Linked DNA regions of Homo sapiens. The protein of the gene in region 1 purifies or fractionates together with the protein of each later gene. This does not show direct contact. Each region holds a gene or a part of one and is shown in the gene's direction. Other genes may lie near its edges.

Region 1 (5,100 bases):
CTGACGCTGGGCACAGTGACTCACACCTGTAATCCCAACACTTCTGGAGGCCAAGGCAAGAGGATCACTTGAGCCCAGGAGTTCGAGACCAGCCTGGGCAAAATAGACCCCATCTCTGGAAAAACAACAACAAAACTTTCCGCGTGGTGGCTCATGCCTATAATCAATAGGACTTTGGGAGGCCGAGGTGGGAGGATTGCTTGAGTCCAGAAGTTCAAGACCAGCCTGGGCAACATGGCAAAACCCTATCTTTACTTAAAAAACAAAATAAAACACACACACACACACACACAAAAACCTAGCTGGGCAGAGCAGCACATGCCTGTAGTGCTCGGGTGGCTGAGATGGGAGAATCACCTGAGCTCAGAAGATGGCAGCTGCAATAAGCTGAGATCCCGCCACTGTACGCAAGCCTAAACAACCTGAATGAGACCCCGTCTCAAAAAAACAAAACAAAACAAATACCCTCCCTGAGCTTCAGTTCCCCTAATGGTAAAATAGAGAAAATAATACCTATGCTCAGTGTGCAGTCATTTCTCCATGACGGTACTCGTGGCAGGCATTGCTAGTCGATCCATGATACTCTTTCCTCTAACTGCCATCAATTAAAGATGGTACTTGAGATGAAATATTTCTGCAGTTCCACAAACTCATGAGCTTTTTTGTAGAGAACTTATTTAAGAGCTAATATGTACAGAATTTCTAGTAGAATTCTGGCACATGGTAGACAATCGTTACGACATTTGGCTCTGAGTTCCCTGGGGGCCGGGGCAAAATGAGAAACACATTAAGCTACATAGTCTTGTTATCAAAGAAGGGGAAACCTTACTTGTTTCTCAGGAGTTGGTCTAGGTTATAGTCCTGGTGTTAGTGTTTGGCCTGAAGCAGGTCAGTGTTCCTAAGAGTTTCCTTTTTAGTGGGCGAGTTCAAGGGACTTTAACTTGTGTGATTTGTCTGCTTATTCCAGAGAAAGCTCTGGGCTTGTACTCCTCTCCAGCTGTCCCCAGACAGCTAGTCGCCTCCAGAAGTACTTCACCCATGCACGGAGAGCCCAAAGGCCCACAGCCACCTACTGGTGAGAGGTGCTGGGAGGTTCCTAGAGTGGTGGGGAGGTCCCAGCAAGCCACCCTGTGACCTCCTCCTGCCCCTTTCTCAGTGCTGTCACTGATGGGATCCCAGCTGCTTCTGAGGGGAAGATCCAGGCTGCCCTGAAACTGGAACACATTGATGGGGTCAATCTCGTGAGTCCGGGTCTGGGAAGAGGAGGGGTGCTTCTAGATATAGTACCCCTACAGAGAGGAGTCAGGGGTATGGATTTGGGATGGCTGGCTCTCCTGTCCCCTAAAACAGGCAAGTGACCACTGCCTATACTGTGGCCCTGCCCGGAGTCTATTGGGAGCAGGGAGGGTCTGGGTATAGCTCCCAGACCTGTGTAAGGCTTGTTCACTCTTGGCTGGCACCACAGACAGTTCCAGTGAAGGCCCCATCCCGAAAGGACATCCTGGAAGGTGTCAAGAAGACTCTCAGTCACTTTCGTGTGGTAGCCACAGGCTCTGGCTGTGCCCTGGTCCAGCTGCAGCCACTGACAGGTAGGTCTGGCACCCTAGCCAGCCTTTAAAACTGCACTTGATTTGGGAGGCTGAGGCAGGTGGATCACGAGGTCAGGAGTTCAAGACCAGTCTGGCCAAGATGGTGAAACCCTGTTTCAACTAAAAACTACAAAAATTAGCTGGGCACGGTGGCAGGCGCCTGTAAAACCAGCTACTCGGGAGGCTGAGGCAGGAGAATCGCTTGAACCTGGGAGGCAGAAGTTGCAATGAGCCAAGATCATGCCACTGCACTCCAGTCTAGGTGATAGAGGAGACTTCATCTAAAAAAAAAAAAAACTGCACTTGAGCCAGGCGCGGTGGCTCACGCCTGTAATCCCAGCACTTTGGGAGGCCAAGGCGGATGGATCACTTGAGGTCAGGAGTTCGAAACCAGCCAGGCTAACATGGTGAAACCCTGTCTCTACTAAAAATACAAAAATTAGCTGGAGTTGGTGGCACGCACCTGTAATCCTAGCTACTTGGGAGGCTGAGGCGGGAGAATCGCTTGAACCTGGGAGACAGAGGTTGCAGTGAGCGAAGATCACACCATTGCACTCCAGCCTGGGAGACAGAGTGAAACGCTGGCTAAAAAAAAAAAAAACTGCACTTGGCTTAGGGAGGCAAGGAGCTGGGGAGACAGTGGTATCAGCAGCAGCCTGGGGAGCATTTGATGGCCCCCAGAGGTGTATGTGACCAGGCCCAGCTAGAGGAGGCAGCTTCAGGCTAGCACCCCAACAGGAAAGAACAGTCCTTAGGCCCGGTGGCTTCAGCAATTAAATCAGGGTTGCATCTCATCATGAGTGGATCCCACAGCCAGGCAGATTGATAGCTGTGATCGTCCTGACGTGTTATGTGTCCCTCTCTGGATGCAGGGGCCATAGTACTGACCTCACTGAAACATATGATCTGAGAAAGGGGGTGGTGTTTCCCCAAAGGAAAAGGGGAGGAGTGATACTGGGTGGCACAGAACGAGTAGCTGCCCACTGTCTCTCCTGGCTTTCCTGTTGCCCAGTGTTCTCCAGTCAACTACAGGTGCACATGGTACTACAGCTCTGCCCTGTGCTTGGGGACCACATGTACTCTGCCCGTGTGGGCACTGTCCTGGGCCAGCGATTTCTGCTGCCAGCTGAGAACAACAAGCCCCAAAGACAGGTACTCCAGCCCACCTGCCTGCTGCTTTCTGAGGGGTGGAGGGAGAGGTGAGCATGGGCAGCATCTCCAGACCTTATCTGTGCAGCTTGGGACTACTGGGAGGCAGCCCTTTTGGCTCCCAAGGCTGTATCCGTACCCACATCTTGGTGTGTGGCCTTGGGCAAGTAACACTCACTCTCTTGGGCTTCATTCTGTCCATGTGTTCAATAAGGGAGTTGATGTGGCTAATTTCTAAAGCCCTCTTAAGTCTGCCATTCTTTGAGTCTGGTACAAAGGGTCAAAGGCATGCGTGTATTAGGACACCAGATGCCTCTACCTGCTCTAACACACTAAGCCCAGACTACCAGAGTCTTCACACAAGAACTGTGCCCTCATGTTAAGGTCAAATAATGGGAGTGGGCTCTGCTTCAAGCACTAAGTACTCAGGGACCCAGGCTGTTGATACCCAGCCAGATGAGGGGAGACAGTGTAGGTTCAAGTGGATAAGGTTTTTCTGGGCCAGGTGTGGAAGTGGCATACATACTGCCACCCACATTCACTCAGCTAGAGCTCACTCACGTCTCACCAAGCTGTGAGAGGGCTGGGAAATGGAGTTGAGGTGTGTGCCTAGGAGGAAACTGATTGGGTGACCCCCTAGCCAGTCTCTGCTGCAGTGTGAGTGCCTGTGTGAATGTGCACATCTGTGTGCAAAGAGGAAATGATTAACAGTTGCAGAACAGTGGGGAATGGAGGAAGCGCCCGCCTTACTCCCATTTCCCTTAGAGCTGGGTACTCAGCTGCTTGGAAAATGTGGGGCTGAACACAACGTACCTCTCCCGCTCCAGGTCCTGGATGAAGCCCTCCTCAGACGCCTCCACCTGACCCCCTCCCAGGCTGCCCAGCTGCCCTTGCACCTCCACCTACATCGGCTCCTTCTCCCAGGCACCAGGGCCAGGGACACCCCTGTTGAGCTCCTGGCACCACTGCCCCCTTATTTCTCCAGGACCCTACAGTGCCTGGGGCTCCGCTTACAATAGTCCTCCCTCTGTTCCTGACCCCCTCACACACACTGGAAAGTGAGGGTGGGGGCTCTGCAGTCAGACAAACCTAAGATCACATCCTGGACAGGCCACTTGCTTGCTGTGTGGCATTGGGCAAGTAACTTTACCTCTCTGGACTTGTGATAATAAAAGTTCCTACCTCATGTTATGGTTTTGAGGATTTGCTAAGAAAGTAAATGTTTATTACGGATCTTGCTTACTGCTGAGTTGTGCCTGTAATCCCAGCACTTTGGGAGGCCAAGGTGGGCGGATCACGAGGACAGGAATTCGAGACTAGCCTGGCCAACATGGTGAAACCCCGTCTCTACAAAAAGTACAAAAATTAGTTGGGTGTGGTGGTACGCGCCTGTAGTTCCAGCTACTCAGGAGGCTGAGGCAGTGAACCTGGGAGGTGGAGGTTGCAGTGAGCCAAGATCACACCCACTGCCTAGGCAACCGAGCAAGACTCCGTCTCAAAAAAAAAAAAAAATTTGTAGAGATGGTGGCTGGGCTCAGTGGCTCATACCTGTAATCCCAGCACTTTGGGAGGCTGAGGTGGGTGGATCACTTGAGCCCAGGATTTCAAGACCAGCCTGGGCAACATGGCAAAACCCTGTCTCTACAAAATATGCAAAAAAAAATTAGCCAGGTGTGGTGGCATGTGCCTGTAGTCCCAGCTACTTGGGAGGCTGAGGTGGGAGGATGATCTGAGCTCAGGAAGCAGATATTGTAGTGAGCCGAGATCTTGCCACTGCACTCCAGCCTGGGTGAGAGTGAAACCTTGTCTCAAAAAAAAAAAAAAAAAACAATTGAGATGGGGTCTTGCTATGTTGACTAGGCTGGTCTCCTGGCCTCAAGCAATCCACCTGTTTTGGCACCCACCCCCCGCCAATGTGCTGGGATTACAGGCATGAGCCACTGCACCCAGCCTTCTTACTCTATTATATTTTTTAAAGCAGGGTCTCAGTATGTTGCCCAGGCAGGCTACCCTCCAACTCCTGGCCTCAAGCAACCCTCCCGCTTCAGCCTCCTTATCTTTTTTTTGAGACAGAGTCTCACTCTGTTTCCCAGGCTGGAGTGCAGTGGTGTGAGCTCTACTCACTGCAACCTCTGCCTCCTAGGTTCAAGCGATTCTCCTGCTGGGATTACAGGCACGTGCCGCCACACCTGGCTAATGTTTTTGTTGTTGTTTTGTTTTTGAATCTCTGTTTTTAAAGCAGGGTCTCAGTATGTTGCCCAAGCAGGCTACCCTCCAACTCCTGGACTCAAGCAACCCTCCTGCCTCAGCCTTATCTTTCCTTTTTTTTTTTTTTTTTGAGACAGAGTCTCAGTCTGTCGCC
Region 2 (8,556 bases), on another chromosome or scaffold:
CTGGAAGTGTAGCAGGAGGTCGTCCCTTTGAGGCCAGGGAGCAATGCACAGCTCCTCTGGCAAACCAGGGCCATAGCCAGGGCTCCCTTGCCCAGGTTTGGGGCAGGGGCACTCTCTTTAAGCTGGAGAATCCTACCTCTTTCTCTTCTCTAAGCTTATTTCCTTAAACTTCATCCTATCTTAGGCTTTTGACTTTTGGAAACAAAAGTTACAAAGAGTTCCAGGATGACTCTGTATTCCTCCCCGACTTGTACTTTCCCCAAGGCACTGACACACAGAACTTGCTACAAATGGACAGTTAAAATGAAGAGAGGAAAATGAAAGATTTTTTATTTCTTTGTTTTTTTGAGACGGAGTCTCACTCTGTCACCCAGGCTGGAGTGCAATGGCGTGGTCTCAGCTCACTGCAACCTCTGCCTTCCGGGTTCAAGCGACTCTCCCGCCTCAGCCTCCTGAGTAGATGGGACTACAGGCGTGTGCCACCACACCTGGCTAATTTTTGTATTTTTGGAAGAGACGGGTTTTCACTATGTTGGCCAGGCTGGTCTCGAACTCCTGACCTCGTGATCTGCCCACCTCGGCCTCCCAAAGTGCTGGGATTACAGGCGTGAGCCACCGCACCCGGCCTGGAAAATGAAAGATTTTTAAACCCATAAATATCTCAAAACATTATCCAGCCATATGGTATGGGACCAGGTGCATAAAGTTAAGGCAATGCTGAGACCTCCAGGTTATTCCACTGGCTACAACAGCAGCCTAAAAGAAAGAAAGAAAGAAACTTGGGGTATCCTTCTCTAAACTCTAATATAGAAAGGAAATGCATATCTAGTAACATGTTTCTTTGTCTAATTATCCTCCTACAATCAGCATCTTAAAATAAGCTAATCTCTTATAAAAAATTTTTGGATGTTAATATGACCATCAGCTCAAAAAGCATTAAAGCCACTTCAATCAAGGGACACAGACTAGGTTTCAAGACACTTAGCTCACATAAATTTCTATAAATTTTAATAGAACTTAATGGTCTTTCCATTTTTTTGTGTGGGAAGGGTAAGCATTATTGATTTTACATTTTAATACATTTTAGGGGCATGATGAACCTGGACAGTAAAAGCATCCTTCCTTCGCCCTACCTAATGCAGAGGAGCTTCCTGAAAGAAATTAGTTTGGAATGAAAGGGGAGCAACTGCCTTGCAGGTAAGGATGGGCAGAGTGGGAGGATCTTTAGGACTTTAGATGTAGGTTTCAAGAAAAACAGCAACATGAAAGTCATGTGTGAGAAGATGTAATTATGAGGCAGATTGAGTTATAAATTATTATACAAAGACAACAAAGACATGAAATCAATCTTTAGAAATGATTCTTCCCAAGTAATAGGAGATAGGAATGTCATGGAAATACTTCAACTGGAAGAAAAGCCATGGAAATACTTCAACTGGAAGAAAAGCCATGGCCTTTCTGCAATAACCTACAATTTCTTTTTCTTTTCTTTCTTTTTTTTTTTTTTGAGATGTTGTCTCACTCTGTTGCCCAGGCTGGAGTGCAGTGGTGCTATGTCGGCTCACTGCAACCTCCGCCTCCCAGGTTTAAGTGATTCTCCTGCCTCAGCCTCCTGAGTAGCTGGGATTACAGACGCCCGCCACCACGTCTGGCTAATTTTTGTATTTTTGGTTGAGACGGGAGTTTCACCATGTTTGTCAGGCTGGTCTCAAACTCCTGACCTCAGGTGATCTGCCCGCCTCAGCCTCCCAAAGTGCTGGGATTACAAGCGTGAGCCACCATGCCCGGCCGTAACCGGGCATGGTTACGTAGGTTTACAATTATAGGTTTACAATTTCTATTTCTTGTTCCTATCCACTCCCTTTTGCATCTGATGTCACCAATAATCTTCTCCAAGGAAAAAAAAACAGAAAACACAAATAAGAATTATATTTTATAGTGATTATAATGATCAGAATTCCTCAGACTTCTTTCTGCTGTCATTTTGCTGTGATGTTCGAGCAGCTCATATTTCAGCCCTAATCAGATCTCTGCTGTAATCTGAATATATATTTAATACAATGCTAGAGATAGAGAAATTTTCAAAGTTAAGTAGAGATCAGTTAAAATACCATTACTGTTTACTCTGTGTCTTTTGAATTCTATTATATTTATATTTGTTTACATTTTGAAAACCAAGCCATTTAAAACAGGGATCCCTTCAAAGAGAACATTTATGTGGCATTTTGTTGCAGGAAAAGGTAACTGTAAAACACATGTGCCTCTAATTCAAGGCCAGTTAACCTCAAGTTATTACAGTTGAGATAAATCATATTTTTAAAAATACTTTTTAACCCTTGTTCACTCACTTTTTAAGCCAATAAAAACAGCAAGAATTAACTTGGTCACTTTTTTGTAACCCAAATGCAAACCATGGGTGCAATCCCATAAAATTTTAGCCACGGATATAATTCCAAAGGTTTGAAAGTCCCATCTTCTTTATTGCTCCTGTCTTTGGGACAAAGCCCAATTTCCCCTATAATACCAACACAAATTATAAAAAGAGAGTAATTGATCTCACTGTATTTTCCAAACTTGTTGCTTGTTACTGTCATTAAGCTACTGTCAAGTCTCATCTAGCACCTCCTGTGACACCACCTTCTTTTTTTTTTTTTTTTTTTGAGACGGAGTTTGGCTTTCGTTGCCCAGGCTGGAGTGCAATGGCATGATCTCGGCTCACTGCAACCTCCACCTCGTGGGTGCAAGCAATGCTCCTGCCTCAGCCTCCCAAGTAGCTGGGATTACAGGCATGCGCCACCATGCCCGGCTAATTTTGTATTTTTATTAGAGATGGGGTTTCTCCATGTTGGTCAGGCTGGTCTCAAACTCCCAACCTCAAGTGATCCGCTCACCTCAGCCTCCCAAAGTGCTGGGATTACAGGCGTGAGCCACCGCACCCGGCCCGACACCACCTTCTATATCAGACTTTGCTGCCTCTTCATGAGATGCAACTAAACTTAAGAGACAAAGCAGAGCTCAAATCTATTTTTAAAAGACTTTATAATAAATTGTAATCCCAGGTAGAAATTTTCTATTTCTCATTATCCACAAAATTCTTCTCCATTAAGCACAGGTCATCAAGTAACCCTGACATCAAGTAACCCTGGCATACTGTTGTAACAAGTAGGATTTTCAAATTACTAACACACCTGTAAAAGCCAGAGAGTTGTGTGTCACCAGAAACACATGTGTGCCCTATGTATTAAGGTACTAAATAGAAAGCACCATTTGCTGTGTGTGTGACAGTACTGATTCCATGTTAGAAGAAAGCTTGCTTACTTGAATACAATTATTACTTTGCTTGATTTTGTAGATCATTCACTAAAATCAGCCTCAGAAAAACAGGATCTTGAACAGAGATAAAAGAAAATACCTAGATCAGCCTCTCTGTGAATGGGCTGACCGACCTAATAAGAATAGGCTGATGGTACCTGCAGAAAGCCACAAAATATTGACCAAGAAAGCAATGATTTACTGCCGACCTGAGACTGCACACGTTTCACAAAAATCTTTTTATCATCCTTTCTCTTAATTGCCCTTAAAAACCAGAGGTGGTCTTTGAACGCTAGCTCACTGCATCCCCCAGGGTTGCTGGTCTCTTGAATAAAGCTAACTTTACTTTCACTACAGCTCTTCTCTTGGGTTTTTGGCTTTCAAGTGACAAGTGGCCCAGATGTGAGTTTCCTTACGTGTGCTCAGGAGAATTTCCTGCCATACCTACTGAAATCTGTCCCTGATCAAAGTGGTGGACCATATGACTGCAGATTGGCCTTGCGAAGTAGCTCATGCCTGTAATCCCAACACTTTGGGAGGCAGAGGTGGGAAGCTTGCTTGAGGCCAGGAGTTTAGGACCACCCTGGGCAATACAGTGAGACCCCCGTCTCTACAAAAACAAAAAATAAAAATTAGCCAGGCATGGTAGTCCACACCTGTAGCTCCAGCTACTTGGGAGGCTGAGGCAGGAAGATCGCTGGAGCCTAGGAGTTCAAGGCTGCAGTGAACCATGATCCTGCCACGGCACTCCAGTGTGGACAACAGAGTGACACTTAAAAAAAAAAAAAACACTGAAGATCAACAGGTTATGATTGCAAATTTTAAGATATTTTGAACACACTATTTTCTTAAGCAGTTGGGAGTATGTTTAATAGCCTATTGAATGAGTATCTCAAAATCCTATTGAAGTTACTATTTGGCAATGAGAAACTAATTCACTGATAATTATACATGCAAAGAAACTAATTATTAAAATAAGTTTTCATTTTGTTAGATAACTTTATAACGTTAAAAAATGGAAAAGTCCTGTAGGGAATGATTTGGAACATGGCCCAGATCCCAGTCACAGGACCAAGGCACTCAATCCCCCAGCTGCTGGGAGTGTTGGTTGCTTATTGCTCACAGCTGAGTCCCTTCCTGCACATCTCACTCTCCAAAAGCCTTAACCCAGCGTTTTGCTTCCTCCCCAGAAACATCCCACATTTAATGAGCAGTCAGTAAGAGGGTCTAAAGGTCTGCCCCCTGGCCTCAATTCAGGATGACTCTGAAAGGAAATCCCGGCTCCAGAGCCCTTACTGGATTGCCTGAGGCCTCTATTACAAATTGTTCACAGTTCAACTTCTTTCTCCCTCCGCCCAACCCGGCCTCCCTCACTCCATTATAGGTGTTGTTCTTAAGAGCACACTCCAATTACCCTCCTGCAAACCAGTCTCCCCCCCAACTCAGAGTCCAGGGAATTCTACCTAAGACGATTTTGAAAGCGGTCCTAGAAATCAGGCTCTAACATGGGATTTTGAAGCTAGATCACCTGCCAGCCAGCTGCCAATAAGAACCTCATCCCTGGTCAGTATTCAGAGCACCTGTCACGCTGCACGATGTGATTACTAACTTGAATCCACTCATGCTAAGCTGTGTCCCAACCTAGTTAACTGTATTTAAAATAAATAAACCACAGGACTTGATGCATGTACTTTATTGCACTGAGTTTTTCTTGCTATACCTTGGACAAGACTGCCACCTCCTGGAAGAGCCGATGAATACTGGGGACGAGGTGCAATTAGGGAATCGGTACTATGAAATTGCTTGCGTCTCAGCAGCAACTCCCTATCTCTCCGCGAACTTAAACCAATTCCTAACCTTTCTCAACCTCTGTGAACAGCTTTTTGCATGGAACCAAGACTTCAAAGAACTTGCGCATCACAATCTTTTTACGTGAAAATGTAAATACAAGTTAGCATTTGTGAAGCGTTATGTGCCAAATGCTTTAATTTTTAAGGCTCACAACAGCCTTATGAGGTAGGAACTATCATAAGCAGATCCACACTGCTGATGGAAAAATTAAGTTTAAGGGAACGTAAGGCGACGGCTCTGAGGCGGAATCGCCACTTGGAGTCGGGACTCAACTGCTGAGAGCGCAAGCTCCGTAACTACGTAACCGTCTCGGGCATGCGCAGAAAAACACTGAAGCACCTTCCCTAGGAGCTGTAAGTAGGTGGGTGTGGTGGGAGCCTCTGCAATCCCAGCATTCCCTTCGTGCCGCTACCAAGATGGCGGCGCCCATCTTGCGGTCCTTTTCCTGGGGCCGGTGGTCTGGTACCCTAAATCTCTCAGTATTGTTGCCCTTGGGGCTGCGTAAGGCCCACTCGGGCGCTCAGGGGTTACTGGCAGCGCAGAAGGCTCGAGGTCTGTTCAAGGACTTCTTCCCGGAGACGGGGACGAAAATAGAGCTCCCAGAGCTCTTCGACCGTGGCACGGCGAGTTTTCCCCAAACCATTTACTGTGGCTTCGACCCCACGGCAGACTCGCTTCATGTGGGTCATCTACTTGCGCTGCTGGGCCTGTTTCATTTGCAGCGAGCGGGCCACAACGTGATCGCGCTGGTGGGAGGCGCCACGGCGCGCCTGGGAGACCCGAGCGGCCGTACCAAGGAACGCGAGGCGCTGGAGACAGAGCGCGTGCGAGCCAACGCGCGAGCTCTGCGCCTAGGGCTTGAGGCCCTGGCGGCTAATCACCAGCAGCTTTTCACTGATGGGCGCTCCTGGGGCAGCTTCACTGTGCTGGACAACTCGGCCTGGTACCAGAAGCAGCACCTGGTGGACTTCCTGGCGGCAGTGGGGGGTCACTTCCGCATGGGGACGCTGCTGAGCCGGCAGAGCGTGCAGCTGCGGCTCAAGAGCCCCGAGGGCATGAGCTTGGCCGAGTTCTTTTACCAGGTGCTCCAGGCCTATGACTTCTATTACCTCTTCCAGCGTTATGGATGCAGGGTCCAGCTGGGCGGATCTGATCAACTAGGCAACATCATGTCCGGATATGAGTTCATCAACAAGTAAGTGCCTTTAAACCTTGGGGAAATCCTGGGACCAAATAATTTACACACTAGTAGCCTGTGATTCACTCTTAGGATTGTAGTTGCTGCCCTTCGTTCCAGCTCTTGTTGGTTTTATCCCCATTAAGGCTCTATAATGGCGTTAATAACACTGGCTAATAAGAATTAAAGGGCTGAATTAAGGGTATTAAGAGTAAACGGTGTATTCTAAAAATTAGCTGGGCGTGGTGATGCACGCCTGTAATCCCAGCTATTCGGGAGGCTGAGGCAGGAGAATCTCTTGAACCCGGGAGGCGAAGGTTTCAGTGAGCCGAGATCGCGCCACTGCACTCCAGCCTGGGGCAACAGAGGGAGACTCCGTCTCAAAAAAAAAAAAAAAAAAAAGGGAAACAGACCACTAGTGAAGATTTGGTCGGTCTGTTTTGCTTCGCCTAAGTCGTCCTCTCTAATTAGAGAAACTGCTTTTGTGTGTTTATACCAGAACGTGACTGGGCCTCCTTGAGTAGCTAGCCTCTGCTTTAGCTCTGCACCCTCCATGAAACTAGTGTTAGTCCTTGGTTGGTATCTCAAAAAGTTTTTTCAACTCCAAATAATTGACAAGTAATGCGGGTCTAATAGCATTTTCTTGAGAGAGGTGAAGGATAGGGCTAGCTCATGTGCAACAGAGCAAAGCACATGTTTAAAAGGCGTTTAGAAGATTTCCTTTAGTGTCTCTTCCTGACACCCCTTCACCCAGTTTTCTCCTTCCCACTCAGCCTTTCAAAATCTCTAGTCCATTGTTATGTAGCACTTCCCCTTGGCCTGCCTAGAACCTGCCTGGAACCACTCATGAGGTTCAGAATGAATAGAGTAAGTACTGTAACAATACATAAGAGGAACAAGAATTCAGATTTAGGAGGTCAAGGAAGTTTTCCTGGAGCAAGTAACCAGAAAGAAATCTGGAAGGTGAACAGTAGAACCTACCACCACTTGTGCTTGAGGCACATAATGAAATTGTTCTTTATGCGTAGGTTGACTGGAGAAGATGTATTTGGAATCACCGTTCCTCTAATTACAAGTACAACTGGAGCAAAGCTGGGAAAGTCTGCTGGCAACGCTGTTTGGCTAAACAGAGATAAGACATCTCCATTTGAATTGTATCAATTCTTTGTCAGGCAACCGGACGATTCAGTGGAAAGGTGAGTTCTGAATAATGGGCTGAGAAAAACTGACACCATAAACTCATGATGTAATTTTAGCCATTGAATCTATGTACATTTTATAGTTTTTTTGTTTTTAACGTAGTTTCTGTCTGTACATAAACCATTACATCATAGAAGACTAATTTTTACTGTGTTCTAAAGTTAAACACTTTGTTGGTTAAAGCAGAAAAACAGTGGGTGGCTAGAAAATGTAGAGCCAACTTTTTGATCTGTATCTAGCAAGTTCTTAGGATTTTATCACCTGCATATTCTAGTTTTTTCACTCCTTTCAACTTAACCTTGACTACCCTTATTTTTCCTTTGTCTCTCTTCTCTCACAAATATGACTTTAAAGATCCTCTTAAGAAATGATTTCTCCTTAAATCAAATTGCCTTAAACTCTTGGAAGAATATGAATTAATGAGAAACAAATATACCTGCAACAAAAAGTGAAAAAAATATTTTGATGCTCTGTAACATCAAAGTAATCTAGGAATAATTCTTTAAGACTTAAAAGGTATATGACTTTCCTGCAAAATATTAAAAGATGCTATTGAGCAAAATAAAGACCTACATAAATGGAGAGTTAGACCATATTCATAGTACAAAAATAATATCAGTTCTTTTTTGTATTTTTTGAAACAGAATCTCACTCCCATTGCCCAGGCTAGAGTGTAGTGACGCAGTCTTGGCTCACTGTAGCCTGAAATTCCCAGGCTCAGGTGCACACCACCATGCCCAGCTAATTTTGTATTTTTTTTTTAGTAATGGTGGAGTTTCACCTTGTTCCCCAGGCTGGTCTCAGACTCCTGGACTCAAGCGATAAACCTGCCTCAGACTCCCAAAGTGCTGGGATTACAGCATGAGCCCCCGCACCCGGCCAAGATACCAGTTCTGGATTTGATCTACATTTAGTACAGTGCCAACCATATCTAAACCGGCTTTTTGTGGAACTTGACAAGCTCATTGTAACACTGACATAGAAATAAAAAGGGCTAAGATTGGCCAAGATGTTTT
Region 3 (7,720 bases), on another chromosome or scaffold:
ATAAATGGCCACATACGATTATAATGGAAACCTCAATTCAGAGCATTGAATTTTTAAAAATTTCTGAAAAACACTTTTCTATTATTCTGGAATGTATTTTATAAAAATGTCCCAAGGTCATTTTTTTTGAAAAGAATATATAATAACAAAAAAATCTCCTAACAAAATGTTTTTCATTTGTCCTTGAAAAAGTAAAGAATTAGGTGCTTATAATTCTCTGTTGGAAACCTTAACTTTATCGTTATGAACATAAGAGACTCACTTTATCTCTAGTTAAATTCACAGAATAAAAGACTAGTCTTAGCTTATTTTATCTCTCCAGTGAAGCATCTCATTTAAATGATGTGCTCAACACTGAAAAGAGGGTAATTGCAAGTCTCTTACCATTTTCCTACTCTCATTTCCCTGAGCTGCTGGCTTTTTGGCTTTCCCAATGCAATATATGGCATATAGAAGATCTTTCTGCTTGATTCTCATACCAAGCATGGAGAATACAATAGCTTTTGCATATCATTTTCAGAGGAATTTAATAAAAGAATAAAAATAAGGAAGCTTTTAAACCTCATTTTCTGCAATTCTTATTTAATTACCAATGTTTATGTTAGATCCATGTGTCAGTGGTAATAATGATGATTATTTTTGTTTGATAAAACATAGTTTATAAAAATAAGTGTTTATATATTTTTCATATGGCCAAGATATAGGCCAGTGATAGTTTATTACATTGCCCAGTTTCAAGTTGTTTTAGTCCGTTTGTGTTGCTATAAAGAAATATCTGAGACCAAGTAATGTAAAAAGAAAGGAAATACTGTACAAGTAGTATGGGACCAGCGTCTGCTTTTGATGAGGGCCTCATACTACTTCTACTCATGGCAGAAAGCAGACAGAAGCAGATGTGTGCAGAGAGGGAGAGAGAGAAAAGGAGGTGCCAGGCTCTTTTCAACAGCCAGTTCTTAAAGAAACTATGAATGAGAACTCACTCCGAGCCATTCATGAGGGATCTGCCCCCATCATCCAAACATCTCCCAACAGGCCCCACCTTCAACAGTGGAGAATAAATTGCAACATGAGACTTGGCAGGGCCAAACAAACAATATGAAAACCATAGCACTAGTCAATTATAAATTCAATTATTTTTTCCTATTACAGTATTATTTTATGTAGTTAAGCAGAAGTGTTTACACACACATAAATCATCAAACTGCATTACTTATAAGACATTTATAGTTTTTAAACTAAATAAATAATTTGCATTCAAGCAAGTACCTCATTTTGTTCTTTTAAACAATTATTTTATTCATTCTATTGCTTAAATTCTGCCATGTTGTATTTCAGAATTAATTACTAATGTATACCTATACAATTTATTCTTAACGAAAGCTTTATGACTGTGAGTTTTCAATCACAGTATTATCTAAATTGCTCCCATTGCTTCATATGAAATAAATTCAATGATCCAAAAATTTACCTGCTTTAATTTTTCTCTTCTTATTTAAAAATGATAATATTTTGCAACATGTTCCATAAGTCATTGAACACTGTGGCACTGTGAATTTTCAACCAACTTAGAGATGTCAGATATTCTTATTATTATTCATCACTGGTTTACTATAAAATCTATTTTTCTTTTTTCTCAGAACTGAAGAGAGATCTGGCCAAAGACATAACCTCAGACACATCTGGAGATTTTCGGAACGCTTTGCTTTCTCTTGCTAAGGTACAACTCAGATACTTTAGGAAATGCCTCTTGTTTTATAAAGACTAATTTCTTAGTCCATTTTGTGTTGCTATAAGGGAATATCTGAGGCTAGGTAATTTTTAAAGATAAAAAGGTTTATTTGGCTCAGGATTCTGATGGCTAACAAATTCAAGTTTGGGTATCTATGTCTGGTGAGAGCCTCAGGCTGCTTCCACTCCTGACAGAAGAGGAAAGGGAGCTGGTGTGTGCAGAGACCACATGGCAAGAAAGGAAGCAAGAGAGAGAATGGGGAGGTGCCAGCCTCGTTAACAACCAGCTCTCGTGGTTCTCATGAGCAAGAACTCATTCCCAGTGACGGCATTAATCTCTTCATGAGAGATCAGCCCCAGGACCCAAATACCTCCCTCTAGGCCCCACCTTTAACACTGGGGATCAAATTTCAACATGAGGTTTGGAGGGGAAGAACATCTAAAACCATCGCAAGTAAAATCTTGTATCTGAGCTCCTTCTAGAAATGAGTAATAGAATACCTTTTTCTCAAAAAATATTATTTATCTGAGTTTAAGATAATTAAGTAAATCATGCAATTACATGCTAGAGAAGAGCTTACAATAGAATGGGATTTCTTTCAGGGTGACCGATCTGAGGACTTTGGTGTGAATGAAGACTTGGCTGATTCAGATGCCAGGGTAAGGAAGTGCTTACAAAATACTGCTGCAGTTCATCTTCCTACCTTAAGTGGGGCTACCACATGATCCCCTGTGAAAGCAAATCTAAGATCTTCTGAGAGACCAATGGCTTCTTAATGTTCATTTCCTGAATGAGGCATGTCTTTCTGTAGCCCCCACACACAAAAAAGTAGTCTTTGTAAGTTTTCAATATCTCTCATTATTCGTAAAACCAGAGAGAACTGAAGAAGGACAATACAAATTTGATTTGTCATTCCCAAGAATTGTTTGTTAAAAAAAACTCTGACCTTTCGTTGTACTAGGTATAAGAAGGGGAAATGTAATTTTTTTATTATGTGCAATGGAAAGAGTAAGCATATTTAACGTTATTTTTAACAGAGAACTTTGGAATGGTTTATAGATGTCAATTTATATTGTCAAAATATTACTGCAATGATATAACAAGAGTATAGGATAAATTATAATAATATATGCTTTCTAACATATTGTTTTATTTAGTTTCAGTGACATTGCTGATTATTTATATGCCAAACCACTGGCAACATAAGAAAAATCATATCATTTTAAAGCCTGGAATTTCCATTTAAAACAAACAAACAACTAATATTTGCATTATGCCTTCTCATGGAACAGTATTCTCTAGAGAATTCATTACAGTGCTTCACTAAGGATAGAGATTTCTTTGTGCACCCCCATCCACTTCTGCTATACCAGTACATTATCATGTACATAATAGGCACTCATGAACTTTTTGTTCAACAAATGCATACATATCAGATCAATTTGCTTGAAAAATGCAAAATAATTTTTACATACATTGAAGGTTTTATCATTTTAATAGAAATTGTTCAAGCATATTAAGGAACAAGAGTTAGCATTTGAATAATTGCCCATAATAAAAAATTCTTATTTGCTTTTGACATTTCTGAATTTGCTTTCCATTTTAAGACTATCAGGGTTCTTAATATATATTTATGGAGGTTACATGGATTAGTGTGACCCAAGAGAATGATGGTAGTCAACATTTCAAAGTTAATAAAGACCGCTTGTGACAATAGGGCAGGGATTATATTTTTCATATATAAAAGAAAAAAATCTGTCATTTAGTAAGGTTGATCTATTTGTCTAAGATTATGCAGCTTTGAAATTGCAGAGTCAGAATTTGAATACAGAAATTCTAACATCAAAATGCAAGGTCCAGGTTACGGTTGAATTATTGATTTATAAGTAACATTTGCTGATAATTACTTTGAACAACACAGAGTAAAAAATCTTTAGAGATCCCCTTGGAGTTGTCTTACTATAGAGCATAATCTTAAAGCAATTTAGTTCAGCAAACATTTATTCTGCAAACATATATTCAGACTCTAGTGTTTACAAGGCACCTTGAGAGAAACTGTGGAAGATATTTGACAAACAAAATAAGGTCCCTATCTTTAAAGAACTTGCAATCTTATTGTTGACTACTCTGATTGTATTGGGCACAAAGCGATTGCCTATATAATCTTTGACAAGGTCTAACATTATTGTGCAGATATCATTTCAGCAGATAGTGAAGTGTTTACTTTTGTGTTTCTTGACAGGCCTTGTATGAAGCAGGAGAAAGGAGAAAGGGGACAGACGTAAACGTGTTCAATACCATCCTTACCACCAGAAGCTATCCACAACTTCGCAGAGGTAACAATAAATTTCTTTTTCTGGAATCTGTTTATGGAAGATGCAATTTTCTTTTTTGATGACAAATAAGAGAAAGTAAAAACAGAACCCTTTTTCAATATCACTCCTGTATCAAACAGATACAGTGTTCCTGACCCATTGTTATTTGTCAATTTGTCCAATTTTGTACAGCCGCTACTTTATCATATTTAATACATTTTGTGACTTGGGCATGTGGAACATAATTTTGTTATTTTCACTGCTTTTACTCCCCTAAAAGATTTGGAATATGTGTGGGAAAAGACATGCATAACAGAACAAATGAAATTAGAATGAAGAAAAACAAAAAAAAAAAAACAAAAAACCCTCAGAGCTAAATGAAGAAAGAAATATGTAGGTGCTTTGGAAAAACAACAACAAGACAAAACTCAGAAAAAGTCCTGGCCTTTGAGTGCAAGATTTAGCTCTGGGCCTCTTGGAAGTGAAGGCGATGGAAAAGTTATGACAATTACCAAAGTTCACCATCTTATAATAGTATACTGATTTCTACTGTTAAATGTAAGAGAAATTTAGTGCACAGGTCTTTATATAAGGGAAGATCCATTTGCTGTGGCTCTTAGAACTGCTGTAGGAAGTGCTATAGTTGTCAATCACATGCCGTTTCTAATAACTGTCAACATTTGCAAACATTTCGCCAAAATATATAGGAATACCAAAATGGCCAGGTAAGTTACATTCCTAGGAGAGGATGAAGTATTCACGTTATGATTAATTGGGTATATTGCTTTAAAAGGTGTAGCCAAAGTTGTTATTCTAAAAAATTCTTTGAGTCAGTTGCCTTGATTTTGCTAAAGCTTTCTAAAGAAAAGGATGTTTTGCATGTATCTTAGTTTGAATTTAATATTCAGTGTTTCAGAAATACACCAAGTACAGTAAGCATGACATGAACAAAGTTCTGGACCTGGAGTTGAAAGGTGACATTGAGAAATGCCTCACAGCTATCGGTATGTAGTCCAGCAGTTGAAAGAGTTTTCTAACTAGAAATTGTATTTTCAAAGCTATCCTATACTTAACAAGAACAACAGCAACAAAACCAATAAAAGAAAACAAAAAACAATCAGAAGTAGTGCATCTGTTTCAATTGAAGCAACGTAAAAGATTGGCAAAGTACTATAACCTTAATAACAATAGATATTATTCCCCTTTTCAAAAATAGAGAGAGATAGACTATACTTATTGAGCACCTACTTATATCAAACAATGTACCAGGCTGGGCACACCACAGAGGCAATTCAGAATGGTCACTGAGAGCATGGGATCTGGAATAAATGTAACATCTGGATAAATGTAACTTCAAGTCCTGGTCTACTGCTTGTTAATTGTACAATCTTGGGCAGGTCCAGGAGAGTCTGATTCAGTGGGTCCGAGTTGGCCTCTAAAAATCGGTACTTTTTAAAGATCTCCCAGGTTATTCAGACAACCATCAGGGTTGGGGAACCTATGTTCTCAAGCAGTGTTTCTCATTCATGACTATGCACTTGAATCCCCTGGAAAGCTTGTTAAAATGCAGATTCTGATTCCCCAGGTCTGGGGTGGAGCTTAGATTCTGCTTTTCTAACAAGCTCCCCATTGATGCCAATGCTGTTGGTCCATAGATCTCGACAAGATGAAGAACACTATGAACTGGAATGTGCTAGTATTATTTGGGTTCTGTTTTATATTTAAGCCCATCCTATCCCAGAGTTTTTTCTTCATTTATTCATTTATTTTTACTTATTTGTTTGTGCAACTCTTACTTTAGACACAGAGGTACATGTGCACGTTTGTTCCATGGGTGTTCTGCACTCAGGCAGTGAGCATAGTACCCAATAAGTAGTTTTTTGACCAATGCCCCTTCTCTCCCTGCCCTCTCTAGTAGTCTGCAGTGTCTGTTGTTCATAGGGTGTTCTTTTTAAATGTTCTTATAGTAACATAAATAAAGTATTTACATAGGCTTGAACACCTAGTGGCTTCTCCACTCCCAAGGAGAATATATGTTGGATAGCGCAAACTACTGAAGTTGCTCTTGAGATGTATTTAAGGTAATAAAAAAATTGATCGTCAGGGAAAAGAATATTCAAAACCACCATCTAGAGAGTCACAAATACCTTCTCAGAAGTTAACTGCCCTATATTGGGAGATGAGAGGTGAAGAATGATGATGAGGGATAGAACACTGTTGGCAAAATTCTATATTTCCTGTTTCTTTCATATGGATATTTCATTTTTTTCATGGTAAATACATCAACTAAAATTTTCTTCTCTAACAGTGAAGTGCGCCACAAGCAAACCAGCTTTCTTTGCAGAGAAGCTTCATCAAGCCATGAAAGTATGTACCATTCTACTTATATGTCCTGCTTAGAGGAAGAATTATTTGTAGAAAGAACAGAAAACCTCATGTTGTTTGAAAATCTCACATTTAATATCTTCCCATTAATGAGAATCATTGTTCTATTTGATGAAAGAGGTAATACACTACCTTCTCAGAATAAACTTCTGTTAGATTCGGTGCTTTTTTTTACAGATGAGATTGTAAAGTGAGCCTGTAAGTGATTTACGGCTCACTTGTGATTTGCTTAAAACATGTGTCACCACGGGAAGGGTGATGTACTTTCTTTTTTAACGTGTAATTTTAGTGGCCTACTTCCTCTAAGGTTGTGAGTTTTATAATCTCCCACTTTATGAGTCTGATTTGTTGTTTTTATTATTCTGTCTTTTATGCCACAGATTAATAGTTGAAACTTTTGAAATGTCATTCTATGATTAAGGATGTAGAATGATGTATTTGAGATCAACTATGTCACTTTAACTTTACTGTCTGACATGCATGGTATTATACAAGGTACCTCTTCTATTCTGACATTTTGAGCCCACAAATGAATAGTTATGAAGTTATCTTCCTTTTTTCTTTGCAGCTCCAAAATAAGGAGGTTTTCAGAGAGAGAGAGAAAGAAAGATCTAACTATTTGAATAATATGAAGGAATATTTTGAATATATATGAATAATTTGAATAATATGAAATGATAGACATGCTAGGTACTGCTCTGTAGTGGTTAGCATAGTTGCTGCCCCCTTTCTGCCATAGTCTAGTGTGATATTTCGTTGGGTAATGATGAATACCTGGTGCCATGGAAGAGAAAAGTGGGACATATACTCCAGACTTTGGAAATCCAGGTAGCATTGCTGTCAGCTAAATTAACACCTGAAGTTTAAATAGAAATGAGCCAGATGAGGGCAAGAGTGGAAGAGATGGGGATAAAGCAAGGGTGGTCCAAGAGGAAGAAGTAACCCACACACAGGCTTGAAGGCAAAAGGTAACATAACCTTCTCAAGACAGTAAGTATAGAGTGATGGTGCACACTGGAAGAGATGGTAGAATTAGGCAGGATATTGTAAGCCTTGAAAAAGAATTAGGCAGGATATCGGAAGCCCTGATTAGATTCTATCCTAAGAGCAACAGAAGATCACTGACAGTGTTTTAAATAGATAGACTAGTTTATTAGATTTGCAGTTTAGAAGTTCCCTTTTTTTGTAATTATTGGACAGTGTAGAGACCGGATGGTGAGAGATGAGTTAGGAAGTTGTGACAGCTCTCTATACCTACCGCTAATGTAGAGGATTATTTATTTTCATTTCA

The links. The genes of interacting proteins can lie anywhere in the genome.
Region 2: the proteins of RPUSD3 (region 1) and YARS2 purify together in Homo sapiens (affinity purification with mass spectrometry; 2 studies listed by BioGRID and IntAct, with this or other methods). This does not show direct contact.
Region 3: the proteins of RPUSD3 (region 1) and ANXA1 purify together in Homo sapiens (affinity purification with mass spectrometry; 2 studies listed by BioGRID and IntAct, with this or other methods). This does not show direct contact.

The regions. Positions count from the first base shown.
Region 1 is NC_000003.12:9,836,673-9,841,772, reverse strand, and holds the end of RPUSD3 (mitochondrial mRNA pseudouridine synthase RPUSD3), read left to right. Parts: intron 1-967; coding exon 968-1,075; intron 1,076-1,156; coding exon 1,157-1,241; intron 1,242-1,437; coding exon of another isoform or gene 1,438-1,465; coding exon 1,466-1,589; intron 1,590-2,601; coding exon 2,602-2,741; intron 2,742-3,565; coding exon 3,566-3,757; 3' UTR 3,758-3,924; downstream 3,925-5,100. UniProt on the Homo sapiens protein: Catalyzes uridine to pseudouridine isomerization (pseudouridylation) of specific mitochondrial mRNAs (mt-mRNAs), a post-transcriptional modification necessary for their translation.
Region 2 is NC_000012.12:32,752,898-32,761,453, reverse strand, and holds the start of YARS2 (tyrosine--tRNA ligase, mitochondrial precursor), read left to right. Parts: upstream 1-5,556; 5' UTR 5,557-5,579; coding exon 5,580-6,358; intron 6,359-7,368; coding exon 7,369-7,536; intron 7,537-8,556. UniProt on the Homo sapiens protein: Catalyzes the attachment of tyrosine to tRNA(Tyr) in a two-step reaction: tyrosine is first activated by ATP to form Tyr-AMP and then transferred to the acceptor end of tRNA(Tyr).
Region 3 is NC_000009.12:73,161,145-73,168,864, forward strand, and holds part of ANXA1 (annexin A1), read left to right. Parts: intron 1-1,637; coding exon 1,638-1,717; intron 1,718-2,331; coding exon 2,332-2,388; intron 2,389-3,971; coding exon 3,972-4,065; intron 4,066-4,952; coding exon 4,953-5,048; intron 5,049-6,352; coding exon 6,353-6,411; intron 6,412-7,720. UniProt on the Homo sapiens protein: Plays important roles in the innate immune response as effector of glucocorticoid-mediated responses and regulator of the inflammatory process. Has anti-inflammatory activity.